Homo sapiens: one gene and its partner. The protein of the gene in region 1 purifies or fractionates together with the protein of each later gene. This does not show direct contact. Each region holds a gene or a part of one and is shown in the gene's direction. Other genes may lie near its edges.

What was found.
Region 2: the proteins of GUSB (region 1) and HOXA3 purify together in Homo sapiens (affinity purification with mass spectrometry; 2 studies listed by BioGRID and IntAct, with this or other methods). This does not show direct contact.

What each region holds. Positions count from the first base shown.
Region 1 is NC_000007.14:65,976,180-65,991,287, reverse strand, and holds the start of GUSB (beta-glucuronidase isoform 1 precursor), read left to right. Parts: upstream 1-9,074; 5' UTR 9,075-9,104; coding exon 9,105-9,314; intron 9,315-10,878; coding exon 10,879-11,064; intron 11,065-11,376; coding exon 11,377-11,561; intron 11,562-11,746; coding exon 11,747-11,889; coding exon of another isoform or gene 11,890-11,902; intron 11,903-15,085; coding exon 15,086-15,108. UniProt on the Homo sapiens protein: Plays an important role in the degradation of dermatan and keratan sulfates.
Region 2 is NC_000007.14:27,102,869-27,118,144, reverse strand, and holds the end of HOXA3 (homeobox protein Hox-A3), read left to right. Parts: intron 1-4,302; exon of another isoform or gene 4,303-4,520; intron 4,521-7,384; 5' UTR 7,385-7,504; coding exon 7,505-8,030; intron 8,031-9,424; coding exon 9,425-10,230; 3' UTR 10,231-11,135; downstream 11,136-15,276. UniProt on the Homo sapiens protein: Sequence-specific transcription factor which is part of a developmental regulatory system that provides cells with specific positional identities on the anterior-posterior axis.

The sequences.
Region 1 (15,108 bases):
GGAGAAAGAGCAAAGAAAGAAAAAAGAGAAGGTATATATCTAATAGAGTTGCATTCGAAAGCAATTGCATTCGGATCTTTTGATCAGTGTTTACTGAGTCCACATTTTACATGTGGAAGGAGAGGGTAGAAGAACAGTCACCTGGGCATTAATTTTGCACTTAGTGAATCTGCATTTTATATAAGATAAATAAACATAGAGTAGAGGAGGCAGCCAGATGTAGATTTGTCTCAGGTGGGTGGAAGGGTGACAATTAGTTCTGTCCTTTGTCCATCACTTGTGAACATAAGTTATCCATTGACATTATCAGGGTGAAATTCAACGGAACTCTTTTTTTTTTTTTTTTTTTTTTGAGACAGAATCTTGCTCTGTCGCCCAGGCTGGAGTGCGGTGGCATGATCTCGGTTCATTGTGACCTCTTTCTCCCAGGTTCAAGCAATTCTCCCGCCTCAGCCTCCCACGTACCTGGGATTACAGGCACCCACCACCATACCTGGCTAATGTTTGTATTTTTAGTAGAGATGGGGTTTCACCATGTTGGTCAGGCTGGTCTCGAACTCCTGACCTCAGGTGATCCACCTCCCTCAGCCTCCCAAAGTGCTGGGATTATAGGCGTGAGCCACCACACCCAGTCTCAACAGAAGTCTTTTAGGGTCAATATCTTGAGGCCCACAAGGAATTTTCTTGGAGCAAATTCGGAGGGAGGTATGTAGTCTTTTATCTTTGTAGTTATCTCTTTTTTTTTTTTTTTTTTTGAGACGGAGTCTCGCTCTATCGCCCAGGCGGGAGTGCAGTGGTGCGATCTCAGCTCACTGCAAGCTCTGCCTCCCAGTTTCACCATTCTCCTGCCTCAGCCTCCCGAGTAGCTGGGACTGTAGGCACCTGCCACCATGCCTGGCTAATTTTTTTTTTTTTTTTTTTAGTAGAGACGGGGTTTCACCATGTTAGCCAGGATGGTCTCGATCTCCTGACCTCATGATTCGCCCGCCTCGGCCTCCCAAAGTGCTGGGATTACAGGTGTGAGCCACCGCACCCGGTCTGTAGTTATCTCTTTAGAAAAAAAAAATGGGAGATAGGTTTGCATGACCCAGTTCCCAGCTTGACTTTTCCCTGTAGAATAGTGAGTCTGAGGTCCCGAGATTTTATTTTCCTTTTATAATATAAACATGAAATAATAATATATATTTGTAAGATCTGAAAACTACAGTGTAAAAGAAGGAAGAACACACAAAAAGAATACACACACACAAACATATATACATATATGCACAAACACACATATATGGTCTCTGTCCCTGTTTCCTGGGTGCACAGCTCCTGAAACCCTTGAAATCTGCAAAGTGGTAAGTGTCTTTGTGGATGCTAATGAGACGACTGATCTCTGGGGCCTCGTGAATAGCCTCAAAATGAGGCCTGGTTGCCAGGGGAACCAACCTCATGATTAGGGGATTGGAACTTTCAGCCCCCTGCCCCCATATTTCCAGAGATAGGGAGGAGCTGAAGGTTGAGTTGATCACCAGTGACCAATGATTTAATGAATCTTGCCTATGTGGCCATCGTGGTGGCTCCTGTCTGAAATCCCAGCACTGTGGGAGGCCAAGGCAGGAAGATTGCTTGAGGCCAGGAGTTTGAGACCAGCCTGGGCAACATAGTGAGAATTCATCTCTACAAATAAAAAAATTAGCCAGGCATGGTAATGCATGCCTATGGTCCAGCTACTCAGGAGGTGGAGATGAGAGGATCACTTGAGTCCAGGAGATCAAGGCTGCAGCAAACTACGATTGCACCACTGCATGCCAGCCTTGGTGACAGAGCTAGACCCTGTCTCTATTTTTTTTTTGAGACAGAATCCCGTTCTGTCACCCAGGCTGGAGTGCAGTGGTACGATCTCAGCTCACTGCAACCTCTGCCTCCCAGGTTCAAGCAATTCTCCTGCCTCAGCCTCCCAAGTAGCTGGGATTACAGGCGTGTGCCACCATGCCTGGCTAACTTTTTAAATTTTTAGTAGAGATGGGGTTTCACCGTGTTAGCCAGGATGGTCTTGATCTCCTGACCTCATGATCCGCCTGCCTTGGCCTCCCAAAGTATGAACCCAGGAGGCGGAGCTTGCAGTGAGCAGAGATTGCGCCACTGCACTCTAACCTGAGTGACAGAGTGAGACTCCATCTCAAAAAAAAAAAAATCTTTGTAGCTATCTATTTAGGAATAAAATGGGAGAGGCAGGTTTGCATGATCCAGTTTCCAGCTTGACTTTTGCTTTTGGCTTAGTGAGTTGGTGGTCCTGAGATTTATTTTCCTTTCACAGTCATTATTCAGGGAAGAGGGTAGGGTCTTGATATTCAAAATTTCTTGGGTGATAAATCTACCAGGGTTTGGATGAGGCCAGACATTGCTCTTTCAGTATCTCAAACCCAGAAAGATGAGTTACTGACATTGAATATGTGAAAGGAAAACAGTTCTGTTTAATTTCTTGAATTTCATCTAAAACAGTTCTGGTTTTGTTTTGTTTTGTTTTGTTTTGTTTTGTTTTGTTTTGAGACAGAGTCTTGCTCTGTTGCCCAGGCTGGAGTGCAATGGCGCCATCTCAGTTCATTGCAACCTCTACCTCCTGGTTCAAGTGATTCTCCTGCCTCAGCCTTCTGAGTAGCTAGGATTACAGGCATGCACCACCACACCTGGCTAATTTTTTTATTTGTAGTAGAGATGGGGTTTCACCATGTTGGCCAGGCTGGTCTCCAACTCCTGGCCTCATGCAATCCACCTACCTTGGCCTCCTAAAGTGCTGGTATTATAGGCACGAGCCACCATGCCTGGGCAAAACAGTGCTGTTGAATTTCACCCTGACAGCATAAATGAAAAACTTGTCTTCACAGGTAAAGGACAAAGGACAGAACTAAAAGTCATCCCTCTGTGCACTGGAGACAAAAGCATATCTGACTGCTTCCTGTACTCTATGTTTATTTATCTCATGAAAAAAATGCATATTCACTGAGCTCAAGATAAATGCATAATTGACTATTTCTCCACCCTTTTCTTTCCACATGTAAAATGTAGATTCTGTAAACGCTGATCAAAGACTCAAAGGAACACGATCACTTGGCGCTTCAATTTGTTCTCCCTCCCCACTTGTTTTTTTATTTTGCCTTCCCCTACTACTCACTTTCTTTCCCTTTATTTATTTATTTATTTAAGACCGAGTCTTGCTCTGTTGCCCAAGCTGCAGTGCAGTGGTGTGATCTCGGCTCACTGCAACCTCTGCCTCCTGGGTTAAAGCAATTCTCCTGCCTCAGCCTCCCGAGTAGCTGGGATTACAGGCATGTGCCACCACACCCAGCTAATTTTTGTATTTTTGGTAGAGACGGGGTTTCACCATGTTGGCAAGGCTGATATCAAACTCCTGACCTCAGGTGATCCGCCTGCCTAGGCCTCCCAAAGTGCTGGAATTACAGGCATGAGCCACCCAGCCCGGCCTCTTTTTCCCTTTAAATATTGAAGTCCCCAGACCGTCTTTGGAAAAAAAAAGCATGCATCACAAATATTTCCTGTGGTTTTTATTTCTTTTTTCCTCCCACTGCATCCTCAACTTTCACAAAATGACCTCTAAAAATGACTGAGACACGCTTCAGTAATTTTCTTTGATTTACAAATGCTTACCAAATTCAGATGCTTTAATTCAGCAAAACACAACAGCTAAAACAAAGATATCAGAAAAATGTTGAATGGCTGGCCAGGTATGGCAGCTCATGCCTGTAACCTCAGCACTTTGGGAGGCCAAGGCTGGAGGATCACCTGAGGTCAGGAGTTTGAGACCAGCCTGGCCAACATGGTGAAACCCCGTCTCTACTGAAAATACAAAAATTATCCAGTTGTGGTGGTGAGCACCTGTAATCCCAGCTTCTTATTAGGCTGCGGCAGGAGAATTGCTTGAACCTGGGAGGTGGAGGTTGCAGTGAGCTGAGATTGTACCACTGCACTCCAGCCTGGGCAACAGCGTGAGACTCTGTCTCAAAAAAAAAAAAAAAAAAAAAAAAAAAAAGAAAGAAAGAAAGAAAGAAAGAAAGAAAAAAGAAAAATGTTGGATAGTATCTGTGTCTCTGAAAAAGAAACAGATCAGGCCAGGCATGGTGGCTCACTCCTGTAATCTCAGCACTTTGGGAGGCCAAGGCAGGCGGATCATGAGGTCAGGAGATCGAGATTATCCTGGGTAACATGCCTGTAATCTCAACACTTTGGGAGCCTGAGCTGGGAGGATTGCTTGAGGCCAGCAGTTCAAGGCCAGCCTAGGCAACATAGTGAAACCCTGAATACAAACTTTTTTTTTTTTTGAGACAGACTTTCATTCTTGTTGCCCAGGCTGGAGTGCAATGGTGAGATCTTGGCTCACTCCAACTTCCGCCTCCTTGGTTCAAGTGGTTCTCCGGCCTCAGCCTCCCGAGTAGCTGGGTTTACAGGCATGCACCACCATGTCTGGCTAATTTTGCATTTTCAGTAGAAATGAGGGTTTCTCCATGTTGGTCAGGCTGGTCTCAAACTCCCAACCTCAGGTGATCCACCTGCCTCAGCCTCCCAAAATGCTGGGATTACAGGCATGAGCCACCATGCCCAGACTAAAAAATGTTTTGTTTTTTTTTTGAGATGGAGTCTTGCTCCCTTCTCGCAGGCCGGAGTGCAGTGCTGTGATCTCAGCTCACTGCAACCTCCAGCTCCCAGGTTCAAGCAATTCTCCTTCCTCAGCCTCCCCATTAGCTGGGATTACAGGTGTGCACCACCACACTCGGCTAATTTTTGTATTTTTAGTGGAGATGGGCTTTTGCCATGTTGGCCAGGCTGGTCTTGAACTCCTGACCTTAGGTGATCCACCTGCCTTGGCCTCCCAAAGTGGTAGGATTACAGGTGTGAGCCACCACACCTGGCCAACAAAATGTTGTAAAAATTAGCTGGACATAGGGTCAGGCATGAAGGCTTACACCTGTAATCCCAGCACTTTGGGAGGCCGAGGCAGGCAGATCACCTGAGGTCAGGAGTTCAAGACCAGCCTGGCCAACATAGTGAAACCCCGTCTCTACTAAAAATACAAAAATTAGCCAGGCATGGTGATGCACCTGTAATTCCAGCTATTCAGGAAGCTGAGGAAGGAGAATCGCTTGAACCTGGGAGGCGGAGGTTGCAGTGAGCTGAGATTGTTCCAATGTACTCCAGCCTGGGCGACAGAGTGAGACTCCGTCTCAAAAAAAAAATACATAAATAAAAATTTTTTTAAAAATTAGCTGGGTGTGATGGCATGTGTCTGTAGTCCCAGCTACTTGGGAGGCTAAGGCAGGAGGATCACCTGAGCCCAGGTGGTCGAGGCTACAGTAAACTGTGATGCAGCCTGGGTGCAAGACACTTTCTCAAGAAAAAAAAGCCTTTGCCAGGTGGTATGGCAGAGTGATTCAGAGTGACAGCATAAACACTTGGAAACAGATTGATTAGGTCAGATTCCCAGTTCTGCATCTTACTAGCTCTGTGGTGTTAGAAAAGTTACTGAACCTTCATGTGTCTCAGTTTCCACATTTGAGAAATGGTAGTAATAATAGTACCTATCCTGTGGTTTGGTTATGGTTTGTTTGGCCCCACCAAGTGTTGTGTTGAAATTTGATTCCCCACTGGGCCCAGTGGCTCACGCCTGTAATCCCAGCACTTTGGGAGGCCAAGGCAGGCGAATCACCTGAGGTCAGGAGTTTGAGACCAGCCTCAACATGAACAAACCCCATTTCTACTAAAAATACAAAATTAGCCGGGCATGCATGCCTGTAATCCCAGCTACTCGGGAGGCTGAGGCAGGAGAATTGCTTGAAACTGGGACGCGAAGGTTGTGATGAGCCAAGATGGCACCATTGCACTCCAGTTGGGGCAACAAGAGCGAAACTCTGTCTCAAAAAAAAAAAAAGAAAAAGAAAAAGAAAAAGAAATTTGATTCTCAATGTTGGAAGTGGGGCCTTGTGGGAGGTGTTTAGGTCATAGGGGCAGGTCCCTCATGAATGGCATGGTGCCATTCTCGTGGCAATTAGTGATTCTCACTCTTTTTTCTTTTCTTTTCTTTTTTTAATTTTTTGAGACAGAGTCTTGCTCTGTTCCCCCAGGCTGGAGTGCAGTGGTGTGATCTTGGCTCACTGTGACCTCCACCTCCCGGGTTCAAGTGATTCTCCTGCTTCAACTTCTCTAGTAGCTGGGATTACAGGCACCTGCCACCATGCCTGGCTAAATTTTGTATTTTTAGTAGAGATGGTGTTTTACCTTGTTGGCCAGACTGGTCTTGAACTCCTGACCTCAGGTGATCTGCCCGCCTCAGCCTCCCAAAGTGCTGGGATTATAGGCGTGAGCCACTGCCCCTGGCCTGAATTACTGATTTTTACATACTGTATAAACGTCTGCATCCTACTTTTTCTTACTTTTGTTAAATTTGGCCTAAAGCTGCCTCATAAACAGTGAACTGTATTCTAATTTAAGCATGTCAAGATTTCACTAATGAAATATAAAAGTAAAATTTAAAAAAAGAAAATATGAAAATAAAAAAACAATGTAAACATTTGGGAGAGAGCCTTTAGGCCTTGTCAGTTCCCAGAATGTACTTATTTTCACTATGCTGGGGACTCCATTTCCAGTATTGAGGTCCATTTTCAGAAGGTGGATTTGGTGAGCATGAAAAAAGGGGGTGGGGGAGTAATCATACAAACAATTGTGTCCAGGCCAGCTTCCTAGGACATGAGGGCTCCCTCTGTATGGCAGAGGCACCTGACATCCGTAACTGTTGTGCACCCTGCGAATGACTTTATGGTCTAAGAATGTATGTTCAGAGCCCCAGCTAAGGAATCAGGAGTGGCAAGATCCTGGAAGGATGCCAATCTATGAAACCCTGAGTCAAGAGGTCAAGCTGGGCACTTGTTTTCCTTTTTCTTTTTTTTTGTAGGAGTTTCACTCTTGTTGCCCAGGCTGGAGTACAATGGCGTGATCTCGGCTCACTGCAATCTCTGGTTCAGGCGATTCTCTCACCTCAGCCTTCCCGAGTAGCTGGGATTACAGACATGTGCCACCATGCCCAGCTAAATATGGAGATGCGGTTTCTCCATATTGGTCAGGCTGGTCTCGAACTCCCAACCTCAGGTGATCTGCCTGCTTCAGCCTCCCAAAGTGCTGGGATGACAGGCGTGAGCCACCGCACCTGGCCAAGGCACTTGGTTTCTTAGATCACCCACTTGGCCCTCTTCCAAGTTGTACTTTCCTTCTTTCCTTCCTGTTCTAAAGTTTTTTAATATTTTTTTTTTTCCTGAAATGGCATCTCACTCTGTAGCCCAGGCTGGAGTGCGGTGGCGTGATCTCAGCTCACTGCAACCTCTGCCTCCTGGGTTAAAGCATTTCTCCTGCCTCAGCCTCCCAAATAGTAGGGATTACAGGTGCCTGCCACCACGCCTGGCTAATTTTTGTATTTTTAGTAGAGATGGGGTTTCTCCACGTTGGCCAGGTTGGTCTCAAACTCCTGATATCAAGTGATCCTCCCGCCTTGGCCTCCCAAAGTGCTGGAGTTTGGAGTTACAGGCCTGAACCTCTGTGCCTGGCCTGCTTTTTTTTTTAGACTGAGTCTTGCTCTCTCGCCAGGCTGTAGTGCTGTGGTGCGATCTCGGCTGACTGCAACCTCTGCCTCCCGCGTTCAATCGATTCTCCTGCCTCAGCCTCCCGAGTAGCTGGGACTACGGGCGCATGCCACCATGCCCAGCTAATTTTTTAGTAGAGATGGGGTTTCATCATATTGGCCAGGCTGGTCTCAAACCCCTGACCTCGTGATCCCCCCACCTCCGCCTCCCAAAGTGCTGGGATTACAGGTGTGAGCCACTACGCTCAGCACTGGCCTGCTTTTTAACAAGCTTTTACTACTGCTCTGCAGCTTACCTCCCTCTGGCTTTCTGCCTTATGCCCCTCAGTGCAATTCTTTCTTCTGAGGAGGCAAGAATTGAGGTTGTTGCTGATGTGTAGGGATTCACCACCCGGAACTCCACCAGTAACAGGTCGAGGATGCTAGTTGAAAATGTTATGTAAGCTGCATGCTTTTTACAAATGGTAGTGGTTCTCATGTCCAGCAATGGCCACTGCACCGTCCCTGTATGAAAGTCCCCTCCATAAATCTATGTCTCCTTTGCTGTCTCCAGATCTCCTCCTCTACCTCTCCCACACGGTGCCTTCCCTACTGGAGTAAACTGGGGTCCCGCAGGGCACCCTTTCCCTGCAATTTTTTTTTTTTTTTTGAGACAGAGTCTCGCTCTGTTGCCCAGGCTGGAGTGCAGTGGTGCGATCTCGGCTTACTGCAGCCTTTGCCTCCCGGGTTCAAGCGATTCTCCTACCTCAGCTTCCTGAGTAGCTGGGATTACAGGCACGCACCATCACGCCCCGCTAATTCTTTTTTTTTTTTTTGTATGTTTACAAAATAGGGACGGGGTTTCACTATCGTTGGCCAGGCTGGTCTCGAACTCCTGGCCTCAAGTGATCTGCCCCCCTCGGGTTCCCAAAGTGCACCTGGCCTCTCTCCCTGCATCTTTATGTGCCTGCAACACCAAGAGGGAGCTCTTGGCCCCTGGGTTAAGGTCAGGGCTCCAGAAGCCCAGGGTCAAGGCTATGGCCGCATCCCAAGGACGTGCATCCCTGCAAGAGGCTGCATCAGACAGGCATGGAAGAGGCGCCGCTGGGGCCTCCTTGAATTCCTGCTGGGAAAAGCAAGTGGAGGTGCTCCTTGAAGAAACAGGGGGATCCCACCGATCTCAGGGGTTCTGTTCTGGCCTGCGGCCCTGGATCGTCCAGCCTGGGTCGGGGTGGGGAGCAGACCTCGCCCTTATCGGCTGGGGCTGAGGGTGAGGGTCCCGTTTCCCCAAAGGCCTAGCCTGGGGTTCCAGCCACAAGCCCTACCGGGCAGCGCCCGGCCCCGCCCCTCCAGGCCTGGCACTCGTCCTCAACCAAGATGGCGCGGATGGCTTCAGGCGCATCACGACACCGGCGCGTCACGCGACCCGCCCTACGGGCACCTCCCGCGCTTTTCTTAGCGCCGCAGACGGTGGCCGAGCGGGGGACCGGGAAGCATGGCCCGGGGGTCGGCGGTTGCCTGGGCGGCGCTCGGGCCGTTGTTGTGGGGCTGCGCGCTGGGGCTGCAGGGCGGGATGCTGTACCCCCAGGAGAGCCCGTCGCGGGAGTGCAAGGAGCTGGACGGCCTCTGGAGCTTCCGCGCCGACTTCTCTGACAACCGACGCCGGGGCTTCGAGGAGCAGTGGTACCGGCGGCCGCTGTGGGAGGTGCGATCTCGGGGCAGGGCCGGGAGGCGCCCGAAAGCCCGGCGGTGGGAGTAGGGGAGCCCGGGCCCCCCGCAGACTTCTTCCCCTGGGCGTCTCCGAGCTGGGGCCCGCAGGAGGTTAAAGGTCAACGGGCTTGGGGGCGCCGGCTTGGGGGACGGGGGAACAGGAGCACCCTGGAGGGCCGGGGCGGATTAGGCAGGAGGAGAAAAGGCTCTTGCCGAGCCCTTTCCCGAGGTAAAGGCTGAGTCTGTGCAGTATCCTTCCTTTCAATATTTATTTTTAATTTTTAAAAATTTTTTTGAGACTGGGTTTGCACCTGTTTCCCAGGCTGGGGCGGAGTGGCGCCAGCCTAACTTCTGAGCTCAAGCGATTCTCCCGCCCCAGCCTTGCAATTTAGGGGGTGCCAACACGCCTGGCTAATTGAAAAAAAAAAAATTATCTGGGCTCGGTGGCTCACACCTGTAATCCCAGCACTTTGGGAGGTGGAGGCGGGCGAATCGCCTGAGGCCAGGAGTTTGAGACCAGGCTGGCCAACATAACAGGGTGAAACCTCATCTCTACTAAAAATATAAAAATTAGCCAAGTGTGGTGGTTCATGCCTGTAATCCCAGCTACTTGGGAGGCTGAGTCAGGAGAATTGCTTGAACCCGGGAGTAGAGGTTGCAGTGAGCTGAGATCAGGATGCCACTGCACTCCAACTTGGGCGACATAGTGAGACTACGTCTCCAAAAAAAAAAAAAAGGCAAAAAAACTTAAAAAAAAAAAAAAGATACAGGGTGTCACTATTTACCCAGGGTGGTCTCGAACTCCTGGCCTCAAGCCATCCTCCCACGTTGACCTCCCAAAGCGCTGATTACTGGCATGAGCCACCCACACACTCTGGCCACAGCGGCATGCACTGCACAGAGCTGGGCCCGGGGATCGGGAGAAGGTGACAGTTTAGATGTCCTGAGGTCAGCTCTGCCGAGGCAGGAAGTCCCTTGGTTTTCAAGGTTCACATAGAGGACAGGACATGACATCAGGCCCAGGACGCCACCCCTGTTCCCCTCCTGACTTGGATGTGATCTGCAGAGAAGTGGAACTGGGTGAGGTCTGGGCGGCTTTTGCCTGGTCTACATCCTCTTATTCTGACTTTGCAGCATTCAGTACAGGAGGGAAAGAGGAGGGGGCTGGGTGCCAGTGTGCACCCCACTCACAGTGTCCTAAGCAAAGCTCCCCCCATTCCTCCAACCAGCCTTCCTCCCTGTGACAGGCAGTGGCCATCTGCCTCTTAGTCACAGGTCTGAACCTTCTTGCCTCTGGCTGGGATGTGGCCCTGGGCTTGCTCCTGTCTCAGGAGATATTGTGCCCCATCCACTCTGAGGAGGAACTCCTGGCCCCACTGGCCCAGGTGCACAGATCGCCCTGGCAGTTGACCTGTCATCAGCAAGTTATCTGTCCTTTCTGCCAAGAATCCCCGCTATGTGTCAGGGCTTGTGCTAGGCCTGGGGGCACAGCCGTGCAGCACACTGGTCCTGGACCCTTTTGGGGGCCTAGGAGCTGAGCCCGGCTCTTCTCTCCACAGTCAGGCCCCACCGTGGACATGCCAGTTCCCTCCAGCTTCAATGACATCAGCCAGGACTGGCGTCTGCGGCATTTTGTCGGCTGGGTGTGGTACGAACGGGAGGTGATCCTGCCGGAGCGATGGACCCAGGACCTGCGCACAAGAGTGGTGCTGAGGATTGGCAGTGCCCATTCCTATGCCATCGTGGTCAGTGCGGCCAGGAGCAGGCAGGGCGGGTGGGGGGGCACGGCTGCTGAACAGCATGGGACCTCCAGCTGCCACCCACGGCATGTATGCTGGGGTGGGATGGTGGGGGGTCCTGCCCTGCCCTGCCCTGGGGGCTGTGCCCTGTATAGGGGGATAGGTAGCCTGATCTACCCCATTGGGATGTCATTCTTCCCGTCTGGCTGGAAGGCCCCGGAGCCCCATGCTGCAGGTTATGTGAGGGAGTGCCCGATAGTAGGGCGCCTCCTCATGCCCTGACCTGCAGCCCCCTCCCCGTATCTCCTGTGTCTGCAGTGGGTGAATGGGGTCGACACGCTAGAGCATGAGGGGGGCTACCTCCCCTTCGAGGCCGACATCAGCAACCTGGTCCAGGTGGGGCCCCTGCCCTCCCGGCTCCGAATCACTATCGCCATCAACAACACACTCACCCCCACCACCCTGCCACCAGGGACCATCCAATACCTGACTGACACCTCCAAGTGGGTACCATCCTGCCTCCATTGCACACACCCACCTTCCCGCCCCACCCTGTGGTCTTCCTGGTAGGGACTGGGTGGCCTTCACAGAGTGGAGGCCTTGGATCTGGGGAGGCCAGGGAGGCCTGTGAGCTGAGGTCAGGGGACCCAGAGCAAGGGCCCAGCAAACCACAGTCCTCCCATCCTAGGTATCCCAAGGGTTACTTTGTCCAGAACACATATTTTGACTTTTTCAACTACGCTGGACTGCAGCGGTCTGTACTTCTGTACACGACACCCACCACCTACATCGATGACATCACCGTCACCACCAGCGTGGAGCAAGACAGTGGTGAGGGCTTCTGGTAGGATCCTCTCAGCGGGGCCCAGGGTGGCTCTGTTTGTTCCCTGTTTGGAAAGCTCTCCCAGGAAAAAGGTGCTCCCAGCATCTCTACACCCTCACAGATTCCCTTCCACCTATGAAGCTAAAATTCAGCCTGTGTGAGCGGATACGGGCTCCCAAAATCACCCGTGTGGTTGACCTCGCTAGGAGAAGAGGGGTCTGGCCTAACGTCACACAGCTCGGGGTGGCAATCCTGTCCCTTCTCTATGGTGCTACTCTCACTCCATCTCCCCTTGCTACACATCGTGCTCAAGGAACAGGCAGCTTCGGTGGGGGGGGCGCCGGGCATGGTGGCTTATGCCTGTCATCCAGCACTTTGCAAGGAGGCCCTGGTATAAGGATCACTTGAGGCCAGTAGTTCAAGAGCAGCCTGGGCAACATAGTGAGGCCATCACCACAAAAAATTAAAAAATTAGCCAGGGATGGTGATGTGTGCCGGTAGTCCCAGCTGCTGAGGCAGGAGAATCACTTGAGCCTGGGATGTCAAGGGTGCAGTGAGCTATGACCACACCACTGCACTCTGGTCTGGGCAACAGACGCAGACCCTGTCTTTCTTTTTTTCTTCTTTTTTTTTTTTGAGCTGGAGTCTCGCTCTGTCGCCAGGCTGGAGTGCGATGGCGTGATCTTGGCTCACTGCAACCTCTGCCTCCCGGGTTCAAGCGATTCTCCTGCCTCAGCCTCCCGAGTAACTGGGATTATAGGCACCCGCCACCACGCCCGGCTAATTTTTCTATTTTTTTTTAGTAGAGACAGGGTTTCACTCTATTGGCCTGACTGGTCTTGAACTCCTAACCTCAGGTGATCCACCCTCCTCGGCCTGCCAAAATGCAAGGGTTACAGGCGTGAGCCACTGTGCCCAGCTGGGATACCCTGTTTTTTTTGTTTTTGTTTTTTGTTTTTGAGATGGAGTCTTGCTCTGTTGTCCAGGCTGGAGTGCTGTGGCGTGTTCTTGGCTCACTGCAACCTCCGCCTCCCGGGTTCAAACAATTCTCTTGCCTCAGCCTCCTGAGCAGCTGGGATTACAGGCGTGTGCCACCACGTCCAGCTAATTTTTGTATTTTTAGTAGAGATGGGGTTTCACCATGTTGGCCAGGCTGGTTCAACTCCTGACTTCGGGATCCACCCGCCTCAGTCTCCCAAAATGCTGGGATTACAGGAATGAGCCACAGCGCTCGGTCTGTATTTAAGAAAAATTTTTGTTTTAAGTTTTTTTTCTTTTTAAAAATATATCTTTTTCAGGGCGGGCGCGGTGGCTCATGCCTGTAATCCCAGCACTTTGGGAGGCCAAGGTGGGGGGATCACGAGGTCAGGAGATCGCGACCATCCTGACTAACATGGTGAAACTCCGTCTCTACTAAAAATGCAAAAAATTAGCCGGGCATGGTGGCAGGGGCCTGTAGTCCCAGCGACTCGGGAGGCTGAGGCAGGAGAATGGCGTGAACCTGGGAGGCAGAGCTTGCAGTGAGCTGAGATTGCATCACTGCACTCCAGCCTAGGGGACAGAGCGAGACTCCATGTCAAAAAATAAAAATAAAAAAATATATATATATCTTTTTCTTTTTCTGAGATGAGGCTTGCACTGTGGCCCAGGCTGGAGTGCAGTGGTGAGATTATTGACAGCCGTTGTGGGGCCGCGGTTCTAAGTTTAAAAGAATTTAGGCTGGGTGTGGTGGCTAATGCCTGTCATCCCAGCACTTTGGGAGTCCAAGGTGGATGGATCGCTTTAGCTGCAAAGTTTGAGACCAGCCTGGGCAACATACTGAGACCCTATCTAAGAAAAAAATAAATAAATAAAATAAAATAAATGAATAAAAAAGAATTTAAAAAAGAATCCCACAGCAAAGACAATGCACCATAGAGCAATTTATTGCCAAGGAAAGGTATTTTGGAAGTTAAGTTTAGAACAGCCTGGGTGCACTGGCTCATGCCTGTAATCCCAGCACTTTTGGAGGCCGAGATGGGTGGATCACTTGAGCTCAGAAGTTCAAACCAGCTTAGCCAACATTAGCTGGACATTGTGGTGTGAGCCTGCAATCCCGGCTACTCAGGAGGTTGAGATGGGAGAATTGTTTGAACCCGGGAGGTGGAGGTTGCAGTCAGCTGAGATTGCAACACTGCACTCCAGCCTAGGTGACAGAGTGACACCCCCATCTCAAAAAAAATAGTGAAGTGCAAAATGCACAGTTCACCCTGAGACACAGAATTCAGGACAGGCTGCTCGTAAGGATGAGACAGCACCGATTATTACTGGGGAAACTCCCTTTCTGGGAGTCTTCCGTGATGAATTCCTAAGGAGCTGGGAAGAGGTGTTACTGTAAGCACGTTCTGGGCCGTCCTCTGGTTGCACATGCGTAGTAGCTGTACATGCTTGTTCACACGTCACGTGTCTCAGTGCCGTGGTTGGCATGTCTGAGGGACACGGTCACTTCCTTGACTACCTATCCTGCCTCAAGATCATAGCTCACTGCAGCCCCGAACTCCTGGCTCAAGCAATCCTCCCACTTCAGCCTCCCAAGTAGCTGGGGCTGCCGGGGCTGCAAGCACGCACCACCACGACCGGCTGATTGTTTGTATTTTTAGGGAAGAAGTGGTTTCCCTATGTTACCCAGGCTGGTCTTGAACTCCTGGTCTCAAGCGATCCTCCCACCCCAGCCTCCTCAAGTGTTGGGATTACAGGTGTGACCACTGCACCTGGCCAAAATCTTTTTTTAAATTAAAAAAAGCACCGGGTGCGGTGGCTCACACCTGTAATCCCAGCACTTTGGGAGGCCAAGGCGGGTGGATCACCTGAGGTCAGGGGTTCAAGACCAGCCTGGCCAATATGACAAAACCCATCTCTACTAAAAATATAAAAATTCGCCAAGCATGGTGGTGCACGTCTATAATCCCAGGTACTTGGGAGGCTGAGACAGGAGAATCACCTGAACCCCAGAGGTGGAGGTTGCAGTGAGCCGAGATCATGCCACTGCACTCCAGCCTGGGGGACAGAGTGAGACTCCGTCTCAAAAAAAAAAAATAAGAAATTAAATTTAAAAAAAGCAACAGAAACAAATGGCTGCCTGGCAGCGGTGGCTGCAGGGCGCTCCTGTTTGTGTGACTCAGGTCGTGTCCCTCCCTCAGCCCTGGTCTCTCTTGTTTCTTGCAGGGCTGGTGAATTACCAGATCTCT
Region 2 (15,276 bases), about 39 Mb from region 1:
ATTTCCGCCGATTGTTCATATCTAGAGTGAGTTATGGCTGTGAGAGACAAAGGTCAGGCGAGGAGACCCTGGCTCATGGACAGGACCCTCAGCCTCTCTCTTCCTTTGTTTCTCTTTTAGAACCGAAACCATTTGAAAGATTCCCAGTAGCGCCTCAGACTCTGAATTTAATTCCCTGGAAAGTGTTGGGGGTGTAAAGGAGGGGGCACTAGGGGGGCTCCTAGGTGGGCCCAGTGGCCCCCAGTGCAAGGGTGGCTTTGTCCACTGCAGCAGGGCAGGGCTGGAGTCTCAGGAGCTGATCCCCAGGCGGAAAGAGGGTCCAGAAGCCAGGTGCAGGCAGAGGTGGACCGGCTTGCAGGGCTAGATTGCCTGGGAGGGGTGGGGGATGGGTGGGTGAGAAGGGGAATCTCTCCCAGGATGGCGGTGTTTTCAGGCAGGGGATGGAGGATTAGGGGCTGACCTGAGCAGCCGGAGCAGCTGGAAGAGGGAAATCGATGAGGGAAATGTGCAGATGCGCTGCCATTTTATTGATGATGCTTCCAGGCACTTTGTTTAGTGCCAGATTGCAGAGCATGCTTCCCCACAAGCCGGACCCAAGAAGCCAGACCCAAGGATCTGAACCGGAGGGCCCGCCATTGTTTCCCTGAGCACCCTCTGCCCCAGAGGGTTGAAGAAAGACAGCTCAGACCTAGGAGAGCCTTGGGGTGGGGTGAGCATGCTGGATGCCCAGGGGCTCCTTATTCTAACATTCGGGAGACAGAGGAAGGAGGGAGCCAGGATTAGGTTTGGACTTCATCAGTGCGCCTGGTCTGGGCATTCCTTGTGTACCCCCAGCTGGCTTGGAGAGTTCCAGAACTGGCCAGTGGGCCCTGGGTTGGAGGGAAGTCCAGAGACAAGAGTCCTCAGGAAGCAGAGGCAGACATCTCTCCAGCTTCAGAGCCTCCAAAACAGAGCTGTAGCCAGGGTGGAGGCAGATGAAAGTTAAACTGCATGTTTCCAGATTATTGGGAAAGCCCCAGCTAATTGGGCTTTGGGGACCCCACACTCCTGGGAAGGGTGGGAACTCCCTGGAAAGGTGCAGGAAACTCTATTATGCTCCTTGCAGTAGGGAAAGGGATGCTTATAAGGAGTCAGAGGTCGGATGTGCCCCTTTCACTTCTTAAAATATAGATTATTTCTTTCTGTACGTGAAAAAAAAATCAAATCAGGCATCCCCTACTTGAGTGGGATTTACTACCCCAGAACGAAAGGGCCCTTCTGCCCTCCCCAGTGCCGGCCTCGGCAGTAACCAAGTGTTTAACTGAGGCCCTTTCAAGTGCTCTAAAACACCCCTTGGAAATAAAATGTAAGCTTTAATTGCTGTTCAATTACTTGTCAGCATTTCATATGATTTATGACCTAGTTCTGGCGCATTTTTGACCCAGTTAAAGACTCATAAATAATATAGTTTTGCTAGAAAGAATGAGAGAGGGAATAGAGGTTTGTTAGAGGCATCTTTTTATTGTTGCTTCAGTGCCAGCAAGCTGAATAAATATCTAAGGATGGACTCTGGTTCTACATAAAAGCATGCACAGTGAGAAGCCAAGAGCCACATTTATAGAGCTCAGATTGGTTTTTCCTCCCATGAAAGTGCTAAAGTGAGTCCATTACGTATAATGCTAAACTATTAGATATCAAAAAAGGCTAGTCCCCTTCTACCTCGAAATGCCAGCTTCACCCTCACAGGCAAGTACATTTCCTCAATAATTTTCCTCTCTATTCTGTGATTTTGGTGCCTCTTCTTACCCACGATATTCCTCACCTTCCTCCCCGGCTGCACAGCCTTGGAACCGCCAGAGGCCCTCTCAGACGCCTTCAGGAGGACACCCCTTGAATGGTAGAAAGACACCACGGGCACCTTTGCTGCTCCAAGTATTCTTCTAGTGCTGAGAAAATCTTTTCTTCTAGTCCCCCTGGATGAGAGATCGGGAGCCACGGGGATTTGGGGGAATTGGTGGAACCAAGGGGTCCTCTCAGTAAAGAAAAGCTCTGCGGTTTTGGGGGAGCCGGGTGAACTGCTGTGGGATTTGTCTAGAAAGGGCGCAGCGGCGGCGGCTGGTAATTTCTGGAGGTGGAAATCAACAATCGGCATTTTCGCTTAAAAAACAAAACACCAATAGCAAACCAACAAATAAAAACCTTCCGCCAGCATAAATTATTATTTTAAAATAATCTCGCCTACGCTTGCTCCAAAGCCAGTCCTTTGGATTTAAGCAGAGCGGCTTGAGGCTGGGGCACCGACCATCTGCATGCCAGGACGCTGGACCTTCATCTTGAGGTCGGAGCCCCACTTCTGCCCGCTGAGGCCCGCGGCCCAGGAGCCACGTATCGGGGCGGATAGAGGCCCTGGCCGGAACGAAGCTCCCGCCCCAGATCTCCCTGGGCTCCCACGGCTCCTCAGGTCTGGTCCCCGCGTTTTGCCCGGCAGGGTCTTGGCGCCAGTGGAAAGGTATGCTTTCAGGGCGCCCCAGCCCTTGCTCGGGAGCCCTCGGTCCCCTTGGCCCAGAGAATCCCTTCCCCTGGCAGGTTCTTACGGAGAGCTGGCCTTCCCGGCAGCTGGCTTAGCTGAGAAGGCGGTGAGAGTCGCGTCAGCAGTTTGGAGGAGAAAGTGCGGGTTGATTATTGACCCACGCCTTCTTTCTTCAAATGCCACATCCGACCGGGCGGGTTTGAAGAGAAAATGCCGCCGAACGGATTTTTGCGGCTGGCTCTCACCTCCTACGCGGCCAGCTCCCCCTTTCAAGTTGCTCTGCAATATGCCATAAGGAGCAAGTGTTTGCTGTTTTGTGCTCTGTTTACAGCTTTGGGGCGCCGAGTCATAAATCTTGCCCAGCCATAAATGACAAAAACCATTGGTATGCATGAGGCCACCCTGGCCCGGAGTGCTTTTTGATTTCTCCCTTTTCCCCTGGCTTTGTTTTTGCTCTAAGGTGACACTTTGGCTCCTTGACAGTTTAAACATACTACTTATATTTTTAACACCTTCCTTTGAGAAGGACCCGCCGTTGACGCCTTGGGATTGCAGCAAAAGAGAGAAATCTCCATTTCTCTTTTTGCCACACTCGTACCCTTGCAGAGTTTGCTTCTGAAGCTGGGAGCAAAGGAGGCTTTAGGAGGAAAATCATCCACTTTCAAGTTGTGGCAATATTACCAGGCAAATTCGGACCTTTCTTTTGCCCAGCTCAGCGTTACTCCATCCCACTAATGAGGAAAATATGTATATACATATATATAATATATATTATATATATAATATATATTATATATATAATATATATTATATATATATGTATGTTTTAGGAATCCGTTTGAGAAACCACATATTCCTCTGCCCTGCGTGTGTGTGTGTGTGTGTGTGTGTATGATGTCGGTTTCTCTTGGGGTCAGAGCTTTCTCTGTCTTCCCTGTGGGTGAGCTGCGTGTCTGCACTCTGAAATGGGCACATGAGCCCTGGAGATCCGCGTTTCTAAACACCCTTGTTTGTACCTGAGCCCAGAGCATCCCATTTCACTGCTGGAACAAGTACCTGTCTCTCCCAGGACATTTTTCTCCTGGCTGCTAGGATGTCAGCAGTTTCTGCCTGAAAATTTAACCAAAGAGAGCCCAGTTGGCTCTTGAGGGTCTCTAGAGAAAAGCCTTATCCCAGCTCCCCACACCCCCACCCAAAGATCTGTTTGGGAGTTGCAGGTGAAGTAAACTGGGCAAAGTCTGGGAAACTCACTTTTCTTGGTTCTCTTTCCCCTCACCCCACAATTGGAAGTGTCCAGGGCAGAGGAATACGAAGTTTCTCAAACGAATTCCTAAGAAATAGAGCCCAGCAAGAGAGCCCCTTTGTGAGAGCCGTTTGTCCTCATTAGCATAATTTTCCTGGACTTTCGTGACGCCTGGGAGCAGGAGAGGGAGGGCGTTGGGGGGTGGGGGGAGGCTGCCCTCCTCCCGCCACCGCCGAGCTCCCCTTCTCCCTCCGGTCCCTCCCCTCGCCTCAGCCCCATCCCCCACACCAGCCCGCGCTTCCCCAGCCGCCTTGGTCTCCCCTCCCGCCCGCCCCAACACCCCCCACCGCACCCCCGGACCAGACGCTGCTCCGCGTGTAATATTCATAAGAAACATACCCAAGTCGGTGCCACTAGCCCAGGCAGAGCCCGGCGCCGCACTAGCGCTTATCTCCGGGCCGCGGCTGCTGCCCTCGGGAAGGGCAGGGGGCGGGGGTGTGGGGGAGGGGTGGGTGGGTGGGGTGGGTGGGAGGGGGGTCCAAGCCGCCCCAGTCGGCCCTGGGCGAGCCGTGCTGGAGCAGCGAGGCGGCCACGCTCTGCGCGGCGGTGACCGGGCCTCGGGGTCTCCAGCCCGCCTGCCATCTCGGCTGATGCTGAGGGTCCGTGCCCATCCCGCGCCGAGGGGACCCGGCCGGGCCGCCAAGCCAGGCCGGGGGCCAGAGCCCGTGTCGGAGCCTGAGCCCGAGCCTGCGCTCGTCAGAAGTTAAGGTAAGCAGGGCCGCAACCGGCCGCTCCCGGCGCTGAATGGCGGAGTTTACGTCTCGGTGATTTATGGCTGCAGACTTAAATCTCGGTTCAAGAAGAGTTCACAAGCCGGAGCTTCCTTCCCGGCAGTGACTGATACCCTTACACTTCGAGTTCAGGCCGCTTTCCCATCCCCGCCCCCACCTCTTGCCTCTCCCCTAGCCCAGCCTTAACTTTTCTGGGTTGCAGAGGGAAGGAGAGGTGGGCAGGGGACTCGGGGCTCCTATCCGACGAACCCGCTCAGATTTGGGGTGAGGGAAGGCTAAGAAAGAGGAGGGAATGGGAAGAGGGAGCGATGTCTGAAGGACGGAGGTTGAATTTGGGCACATCTTCCAGAGAGACAATAGGGCTTGCTTCTTGCACTCAATTTAGCCTCTTCAACTCTCTTTCGGCTCTTGCACCTGGGGATTATTGTCCAGAAACAGATCTTTGTGGAGGAATCTCCCCTCATCCCCAGCCCTTGCTTGGCGGTACAGAGCAAAGTTTCCTGGCTGGCAAATCTCCAACTTCTTTACTAGGTTGCAAACTTTGGGGGCTGGGTTGGGGTGGGGGGATGTATGAGCTCCAAGGTGGTGGTCTGCTGACCTCGAACAATAGGAAGGATTTTGGTGGGATCCCAGAATCGAATTTATATTTTAAGTTTACGAGGGCTGTTGTATGCTCTTTGATTTTCAAAGATATTTTTGTTATTTTGTAAGACAATGCACAACTTGATAAAAAGGCTTAACTAAGTAGCAGGCTGGTATAACGTGATAATGGATTAGCAAGTCACTAGAAATATTGCATGTGCAAAATCAGCTTAATTTTGTTTTATCTAATATCTTGCTGTTCGAGTGTCTAATTTTCTTAACCTGACATTTTATTTTACACAAGCCTGGTATCTAAAAAATTTGTAATGGCAGACATTGACACTGCCAAATGTAATAGGAACTGTTTTCAGTAAAAGAAAAGGAAACGGATACACTAAATTGCTATTCAGTTTTAAGTTTTACTTTATCCTTTATTTACTTTCAACCATGGTATGTGTAGCTTCCTATTTCCAAAAGAGAAACAATGCTCCAGGGCTCATGATCACTGACAATAACTCTGGATAAGCGATGCTGTAATTTTTAATCGAGGTTCTGGAAAATTAATTGTGCCTGTTTTGCAGATGTTGGTAAGATTGTTGGCTTAATAATGAAATCTAAAGGAGTCCATTATCAACAATGGAATTATAATCATCTACTGGTAGATGCAATACATTATCTTTTTTTTTCTAGTTAACAAAGCATCTAATATTCCTGGAAAACTTGAATAACTCTGGGACTCAATATACATAGTTGGATTGCATGTTAACCATTTTCTTTTGAATTTGTTATAATTTTCTTGAGTGGTCAGAGGGACTAAGATTCTGAGTGTGTGTGTGGGTGAATATTTGAAACTCACATGGAACTTTTCTGTGCTGAGAACTAGAGGTTGACCATGCAGTGGTTGAAAACAAAAAGAAAACAGATTTAACTTTTGCAAACTGCTTTCTAAATGAAAGAGGGTTGAGGAGGTTTTCAACTGCTTTTTAGATTTTCAGGGTTATCCTTTACTTGGTATTTCTGAAGCAGGTAAATAGGCCAAGTAACAAAATATCAACAACAACAACAGCACACAAAGATCAGGAAACTCTGGCAGGATTTTATGGCTTGTGCTTCCATCCCTCGTCGGGAGCCAAATGACCCCCATACATCAAATTACATAGCAGTTTCTAAGACAGAACCTATTATCGTTAAGTTGGAAGGAGAGTTCAAACTGTGGTCATGGAGATGAACGCTGGTTTTTCAGGTTCCTGGAGGGGTTTTTTTTCCCCCTCTAATCCATCATGTTTTAACAGGTAGAATTTGATAGTTGCCCCGAATAACAGCACCTTAGAAAGTCCAAGACAGGAGGTTCTGGGAACCTTCTGTAACTGGGGGAAAGAAGTAAAGAAGTGGGGGTGGCTTGCTGGGAAGTGCCTGAGAAACAGGGAGAGGAAAGGAGTAAAGAACTCTCCAGGATTTTAGTTGTGACTTGCTGGGTGGGGTGTTACTGTTGGTCCCTCACCCTAAACACACACACACACACACACACACACACGCAATGTGTTCCACACAAAGTTTTCCCTCCCCCCTTGGCTTGGCCACAAGGGGTTCATTTGGAGGAGGTGAGTCATATCCCCAACAAGGTGGATTAACTTCCTAACAAGCTCAGCTTCTGAAATCCAGCATGGTTGGATGGGGCAAATTGCCTGAAATTTTTTGTGCAAACCTCTCTTGGGAGCAGGAAGGTCCAAGAAGGAGCTGGGTGGGAAGTTACCCCATCTCAGGGCTCTTTTGGCAAACATCAGTCCTAAAGCGGAGAAAACATTGGCGACCCAAGCTCCCCTTTGCCTCCTCGTTCCCTTCCCAACATTCCCAGAGTGGAGGAGTCTTGGGCCCTCTGGAGGAGGCCAAGGAGCAGAAACTAAGCGACACCCCAAGTTTCTTCTTCCCTGGAAAAGAAAGATCCCAGCCTTTTTCCTTTCTAGCCTATCAAGCCTTTCTCCTTTTGGATCCCGGCTCCTGAGAATCAGCTTGCAGCCCTCACTCATTCTCCTTCTCCCCGGAAAATCCCCCAACTCCAGACGCAAGTTAAGCAAATATTTGTAGCTGCCAGTAAATTCCAGCGGTTTTTTATAGCACGGCTCCCTGCGCCCGGGGCCAAGTCGTGCTGCTAAATATTGCTGACCACTTTTTCTTTTATGGCTTTCATGTCACTTAGCTATTGAGAGTAAGATGGATTTGCGCGGAGCCCTCACCGCGCTGCGCTTCTCGCCCCACCAGGTCTGCGCGGGGCGGCCATTGGCGGCGGAGTGTCACGTGACCGCGGGGGCGTGCCAATGTGCGCCCTCACGGGTGTCAAACCCCTGTCAGAGTGTGCGATCAAGATCGTGAAACAACGCGATGCAAAAAGCGACCTACTACGACAGCTCGGCGATCTACGGTGGCTACCCCTACCAGGCAGCCAACGGGTTCGCTTATAATGCCAATCAGCAGCCGTACCCGGCGTCCGCCGCTTTGGGCGCCGACGGCGAGTACCACCGACCCGCCTGCTCCCTCCAGTCTCCCTCCAGCGCCGGGGGCCACCCCAAGGCACACGAACTGAGTGAGGCGTGCCTGCGCACCCTGAGCGCCCCACCTAGCCAGCCTCCAAGCCTGGGAGAGCCGCCCCTGCACCCGCCGCCGCCCCAGGCCGCGCCCCCTGCCCCACAGCCGCCTCAGCCCGCACCTCAGCCCCCTGCACCTACCCCTGCCGCGCCCCCGCCTCCCTCTTCTGCCTCCCCTCCTCAGAATGCCAGCAACAACCCTACCCCTGCCAACGCGGCCAAGAGCCCCCTGCTCAACTCACCCACAGTGGCCAAACAAATCTTCCCCTGGATGAAAGAGTCTCGACAAAACACAAAGCAGAAAACCAGCAGCTCCAGCTCAGGTAAAGGAGTGCCTTCTGGAAGAGGGTCCTCTGGCCTGGCTCCTGGTCCCCAAGCTACTGCCCACGACATCCAGCACAGCCTAGGAGCGATGGAGCATGTCTGGAATTCACTGCTCCCACACCACTGCCCACCAAAAAGGTTTTCATAGTCTTTGCAACTTAGGGAGGTGATAGGCCTCTGTAGGCTGGAAAACACCAGAGACCTGCTGGGAGTCCCTCTGGACTTCTCCAAGGGCAAGTAGGGTCTAGTGCAGTTGGAATCTCTTCTTGCTCCACTCTTGGAGTTAGGACCTCTGTGCAGAAACAACCTGAGCTCCACTGTCTATCTTTTTAGCACAGCTCTTCTAATGAAACAGTGACATCCTCCCCTTACTGAAATGTGGCAGAATAAAAACAGGCCTAATCACCCTCCAAGACAGAATCAATGCTTTGCCTATAATCAGAGCCAATTTTTGCTCCAGCAGATGGAGTGGCTGCCTTACCTCTGGGAAGACCCTACTCAGACTTAGTACAATGAAAGCAGCCAAAGATCTCCTGGGGGAGGGGGATGCAGACTTATCATCCTAATGGGAACCACATGGGCCTCCTGAAAGCGGGCTCCAGTAGAGGAAAGGCCCCAGGCTTTAGGCTTCCTAGCATTTTGGTTACCTTTGCCCCTGCCTTCTCCAGTTGCCAGTGCCCTGCTCTGAGCCTGAGCATCTGGGACTTCCAGAGCTAGGATCTGGGGGGCCAGGGAAGACAGAAGGGTACAAGATTAGTGGACAAAAGCTGGGGCTGGCTGCTTGATGACATAGGGAACCCTAAAGAATAGGACCTAGCATGAAGGGCCTAGGCCTCCCCACCAGAAATACCTTCAATGGGATCTCTTCTTTGGGCAGAGAAGGCCTTCCAGTTTGAGGTTTCCAGTCTGCCCATCTCCTCTGGGTAGAGAGAAAAAAGTGGCCAGTTGAAGCTACTGCCTAATTATTGTCAGACAGTGTGGGAGGGAAATGAGTGTGTACATTAGGTTTCCCACATTTCAGTTACTGTGAAGAGAATGGAGATGCTGAGACCGGCCCACAGGGAGGCTGTTGTCCGATAGGCCAAAGGGACCAGTAAATGAGTCAGAAAGTTAATAGCTCTAAACAGAAAATCCAGACCAGGAAGGCAAACCGGGGGTTCTACTTCTCTGTCCTTTCCCCCGAGAAGGCTGTGATTTGCTCCTTGGCTAAATGAGGGAGTATCACTGTTTTACCCACCAGGAGAGAGGATAGCACCTAGTTCCTACTTCTCTCTGGGACCTGACGGATGCAGGAACCTTTGGGGCCTGGTGGAAGGAGGGGCCGGGCTGGGTCAGGGGCTGGGCGGGGCCGCGGCAGCCCCTGACGCCGCTCTTCCTCTCTCTGTCCTCGCAGGCGAAAGCTGCGCTGGCGACAAGAGCCCGCCGGGGCAGGCTTCGTCCAAGCGCGCGCGCACGGCCTACACGAGCGCGCAGCTGGTGGAGCTGGAGAAAGAGTTCCACTTCAACCGCTACCTGTGCCGGCCGCGCCGGGTGGAGATGGCCAATCTGCTGAACCTCACTGAGCGCCAGATCAAGATCTGGTTCCAGAATCGCCGCATGAAGTACAAAAAGGATCAGAAGGGCAAGGGCATGCTAACGTCATCGGGGGGCCAGTCTCCAAGTCGCAGCCCCGTGCCCCCCGGAGCCGGTGGCTATCTGAACTCTATGCATTCGCTGGTCAACAGCGTCCCGTATGAGCCCCAGTCGCCCCCGCCCTTCTCCAAGCCCCCCCAGGGTACCTACGGGCTGCCCCCCGCCTCCTACCCTGCGTCCCTGCCCAGCTGCGCACCCCCGCCACCCCCACAGAAGCGCTACACGGCGGCAGGGGCGGGCGCAGGGGGCACCCCCGACTATGACCCGCACGCTCATGGCCTGCAGGGCAACGGCAGCTATGGGACCCCACACATACAGGGAAGCCCCGTCTTCGTGGGGGGCAGCTATGTGGAGCCCATGAGCAACTCCGGGCCAGCCCTCTTTGGTCTAACTCACCTCCCCCACGCTGCCTCGGGCGCCATGGACTATGGGGGTGCCGGGCCGCTGGGCAGCGGCCACCACCACGGGCCGGGGCCTGGGGAGCCGCACCCCACCTACACGGACCTTACCGGCCACCATCCTTCTCAGGGAAGAATTCAGGAAGCACCCAAGCTCACCCACCTGTGATAGTGGGCTTGGGGCTACGCGCCAGGAGAGTCTCCCCCCACCCACCTTTTTTCTTTGGTTGCTTTTTTTTTTTTTTTTTTTTAGGTTCTTCCTGCCCTTTCCTTCCTTCCTTTTCTCTCTTCTCCGCCCCGCACTCCGTTTCCCGGTTTCCCCCCTCGTTGGTAAGGCGTTTTTATAGTTTATGTGACGTAGCAATCTTGGTTGCTGGAATGGCTGTATCATAGCGATATTTATCTCTTCCTGCTCCTCGATAGGCCACTGGCCCTGCACCCTTTACCTTCTCCACTCTTTGATCAGAAACAGGGTATATGAACAAATTTTCTAGTCGAGTTTTCAATGTGAATTTGTTCTTACATTATGGCTCCCGAGGGGAAGCGATTACTTTTTTTAATTTTAAATTTTTTTTTTAATTGCACTTCTTGTAAAGAGTGAGAAAAAAAATCAAAGGCGCTTTGAAACAGGGGCTCTCTGTGCAAGGATGACTAAGTGTACGTCTTTCCGTGTGTGTATGCTGGTGAACAGTCAGATTTATTTATATTTTTTTGCAAGCATTGAATAATCTAAGTTTTAAATATTATTTATCCCCATCCGTTCGTATTTATATTAAAGAATTCTGTACCCTGATGGTTCAGAAGGGTTCTTGGGCCTTTTGTTCAATTGTGTATTGGCGTACTTAGAATTTTTTTTATTTGAAAGAGAAATATAATTCCTTTAAACGGTAACGATACAATAAAACCAGAGAAGATCCAGCTTTTGAAAACAGTGATTTAGGTTTGTAACATCCGGCAAAACTGAAAAAAAAAATCTGTAAACGCGAAAAATACTAGATTTGTTTTGAGAGTTCTTCATTCCTTGCTGCTCACATTCTGAGAAACAAAAAGAAATAAAGTTTTTATTCTGAATAATATCCGTGTTAAGAAGGGGTTCTTTGGCCGAAGACGTGGGTCTGCGTGGAATTCAGGCCGAGGCGAGCCGGCAGAGCAGGCCGGACGCAGCAGCCCTCTGGCTCCAGCATGGGGCCTGGCCAGGCTATTCGCCTGGAAGCTCGGCGAATTCTCAGGATGGCGGCTGGGGCTCCAGGCGGCTGCGGCAGCTCTGGTAACGCCGTGCGGCGGGCCAGCTGGGCTGCCCGGTTCCCAGCTGCTGCGGAGGCAGGCTGAGGGCGCAGGGGCTGCCGAGTGCTGTGCACGGAAGAAACAAAGACATCCCGGCCCAAGGCGCAGCGGGAGCGCACAGGTGCCCCGCGGCCCAGCCGGGGGATAACGCAGGGCGGTCTTCTGCTCCATGCTCTTCCTCGGGTCAAAGCGGACCAACTAACGCCTAAACCTCGGTATTAGCCAGCCGCGCAGAGGATGCCGAGCACTTTCCGGGAGCAATCGGACTCCTGGTCTCCTCCGGGGATGCTTCGCGGTCTGTTATCGCGTCAGGAGGAAAGAATTGCTCCAAAAATCTGCACGCGGAGCGAAACAGTTTGAAAGGGACTGAGGCTCACCCAGGTCTCCAGCAAACGGAGGACTGAACTGGGGAGAGTCACCCTGAGCCAGCCCTTCCCTGGACTGCCGGAATCCCAGCATTAGCTTCCTGCTGAATGTAGTATTTGGCATTCTCTGAATTTATTTCCTCTCCTTCCCCCACCCAGCTTTCTTTTTATGGCCCCAGGGGGAGGGGGAGAGAGCAAGGAGATCGGTATCTTTGTAATAAAACTGCAATTTTATAAATTTTTCATTTGATGTTGTAGGAGCTAAATATTACATTTCCACTCCTGGATTTAAGATAGGGCTGCTTACTGACTGGCTAGAAGAGGCAAAAGAAGGCACAGTAAAGGGAAATATTTTCATCTTCAGATTTAAGGATTCCTCGAGAAAGGAATCAAATTCAGAAAATGCAGACCTCAGACCTGCATCCCCATCATCACCCCCTTCAGAGCTAGAAGCGAGGAACTGCTTTCGTCTGGGGATCAGGAGCATCGGATGTGAGAAATAAATCCCTATTCTCCCTGGATTGTATCTTTCAGAGACAGAAGTGGAAAATGTCGCCATTTTGTTTGCAATCCAAAATATCCATCATCATGGCCTTTATCTTCCCCCTGTGAAGCTCCCTCAGATTATCCTTAGAAGCAGGCACTGGAGCCATTTCTGGGTACCTGCTGGGTCCCAACGAGCTGCTTTTAGAGAAACTCCTCATGGTTTAAGGAAAAGGCTCGGAGGATGCCAAGCCAGGCTGCTGTGGAGAGCTCAGTGTTTCTCTCACACCCAGAGGTGCTTTCCCCATATCTGTCCTAAGGCTGCTGATATATATATCCTTTTTAAAGGGTTTGGGCTATGGGAGAAATAGATTTCCTCTCCGCACCTCAACCTCTGCGCCAAAATATGGCGCACCTCAGAAATGCAGAGGCTGCAAAACCAGGCTTTGTGAAGACTAGAGCTTCCACCTCTTCGTCACGCTAAGCAGATACAGGAGTCTTCTTTTAAGTAATCAGCTTAGAGACACGTGTAAAATTACCTGGAAAAATAAGGAACAGCTAGGGGAGAGATTCACCTAAGGATGAAGATCCTTCAGGGATATCACTATTTGAACACGTTTCTGAAATCTACTCTTTAGCTGAGGGAGGGGTGGTTTGGAGGCTTCCTCCTTCCCCCAGGGCTAAGATTTTAAAATGAGATTCTAATGTGATTTCCCGCATCTTACCAGTCAAGACATTCATTTTGGCTTTCAAAGAAAAAAGTATTGACTTCACCCCCCAGTTTCCTAGATATTAAAAAGAAATCCTTATTAAAATATCTCATAAGTTAAAGTAATAGATTTGGGGAAGATTTCAGTGTTGAGTGGTCAAAGAAAAGGGTTTTCTTCCAGATGGTATTTGAATTAAGGCGGCTGAGGCAGCAGAAAGCTCTCACCCACGCAGCCCCTGACAAAGCCTCAGAGATATGGGGGCAGCGCTGCTCCCTCTCTGCACCCCCCGCCCACGTTCCCTTAAGCCTGTAATATTTTCTGGTAAAAGCAGATGCCAAAAGCTGCCATCCCAGGGTTCGCAAAGCACCCTTCCTAAAAGGAGCCCTATAACCCTTTTCACTGCCAAAATATATTTTTTAAAAGACTAGTTTTCCTTATTTACTTGCATTTCCTGCTCTCCTCTTTGCTCGGCCACATTTTATCTTGGAAGGAGCTGGAAGCTGAAATGTGTTCTTAAGGGCTAGAAGCTGTCAAGGCTTTTGGTGAGCAAGATTGATCGCGCCCAGACTTCCTTTGGAGCTTTGTTTGGAATAAAAGCAAGAAAACTAAAAAACCTCACATTTTCCAAAATAGCATCTCTATCTGCAAGGCAATGCTCTGGGCTGGTCAATGATATAGGCCACTTATGTCTAATTTCCACCCCAAACCCTCTTTGACGCTGGCCTCAGAGATGGGGTCCTGCCTTTGCTCCTTGGTTGGCCTTTCTTGTTTTCTACGTAGATTTTTCTCCCCCTCCAACCTCTCTCTCCCTGACCATCAGAATGATTTATTTTCCTGCCATTGATGCCTGCCGGCCTGGGGGAGTCTGATCAGTTAGTCTATTTCAAAGGAAGCAAAAGCGAATCACCATCCTCAGGGTTTGGGGGGGAAAGAGGTACCTCCAGATCTACCTCTCAGCCTCCTCACCTCTTTCTGGCTTGGTGGATTTTTTAAAAATTATTTTTTGGTACCTAAAGGTGTTATCTTTTGAACCCTCTAGCACTGTCCAAGATGCGCTCAGTCTCAAGTCTCCGAATTGGAAAAAAGATAATGAAGGAGAACGAAAACCTTTATAATTCCTCCTTGGGTCGCCTCCTCTCCCCCGCAGTGCTGTTTCCCACAACAGAACCCGGAAGCAAACATCCCCGGTGCCCAAGGATCAGGAAGGTGTGGGAGGCAGTTCAGGCTGCCAGGGAGCACTCGCTGTATCTAAACCAACCAGCCCCCAACCAGAGCGACAAGGACAAGAAGAAGGGTAGAAAAAAAAGAGAGAGGGAGGGAAAGAGAGGAGCAAGCATCTTCTCTTTCCCTGCTGGTAACTTCCAACAGACTTCCTGGAAATCGGAAATACTCACCGCACCCGAGCCCTACGGGTATGAAACCCAGAATGCCAGGAGCCGCACGCGCCTGCTCGGGGCGGCATTTCTTTGGCTGGCCGCCGCCCTGGCTACGGGGATTTGGACACATGGACCTGGGGTTGTTGTCTCGCTTGGCACATGCATCTTTCTCCAGCCACTCCTGAGAAGTTGATGGCGCAGGAAGGTCGGGAAGCTTCGAGAGCCGCCTCCCGTTTTCCGCTTCCCGCCGGAGCCAGATGCAAAGCTGCCGTGGAATAGCCTGCTAACAATGGGCCCGGGGCGCAGACTCTGGGCTGGACACTGGGAGGGGGGCGAGAGGCTGAGGGGAGAAGGGGAGGCGGACAGAAGAGAGAGGGAGGGAGAAAGGGGGAGAAGAGGAAAAAGAGGGAAAGGGACAGACAGGAAGGAAAACAGACCGAGAGAGATCAGTTTTGAGATCCAGGAACTGCTTTTAGGAAAAGTGAAGGAGGAAAAGGGAAAGAAAAGGAAGACCCCTTCCCAACCAAAATCTTTCCTTTCTTCTCTCTTTTCTGTCTTCTCTTTCTCCATCTCTCAAACTCTCTCTTCTTCCCTCTCTCTTTATTCTCCCTCTCTCATCTCCTCTCTTCCTCTGCTCCTTTCTCCTGCTTTAACAGAACTTATGTGGCTGGGACGCAGGGCCCTCGGGTGTCAAAACTTTGAAGATTAATGGATTACTTTGTTAATGACTGCAGGCGTCAGACTGAGGTGCTTAAATGATTTGTGAGGTGCGAGGCGTCTTCCCGACAGTCCCAAACAATGCGCGGAGTGTGCGGGGGAGGCAGAGGGCAGCCACCGGCGGGACCGACAGCAGGGCTTACACTCGCGCACATTCACACACACACACACACACTCCCAGGCACACACACTAGATAGATCCTTGCAGATCAGGAGGCACGCAGGCACCCTCGCCCCCACGTACTCCGGGACATCCCCACCCACACCAACATATATGTAT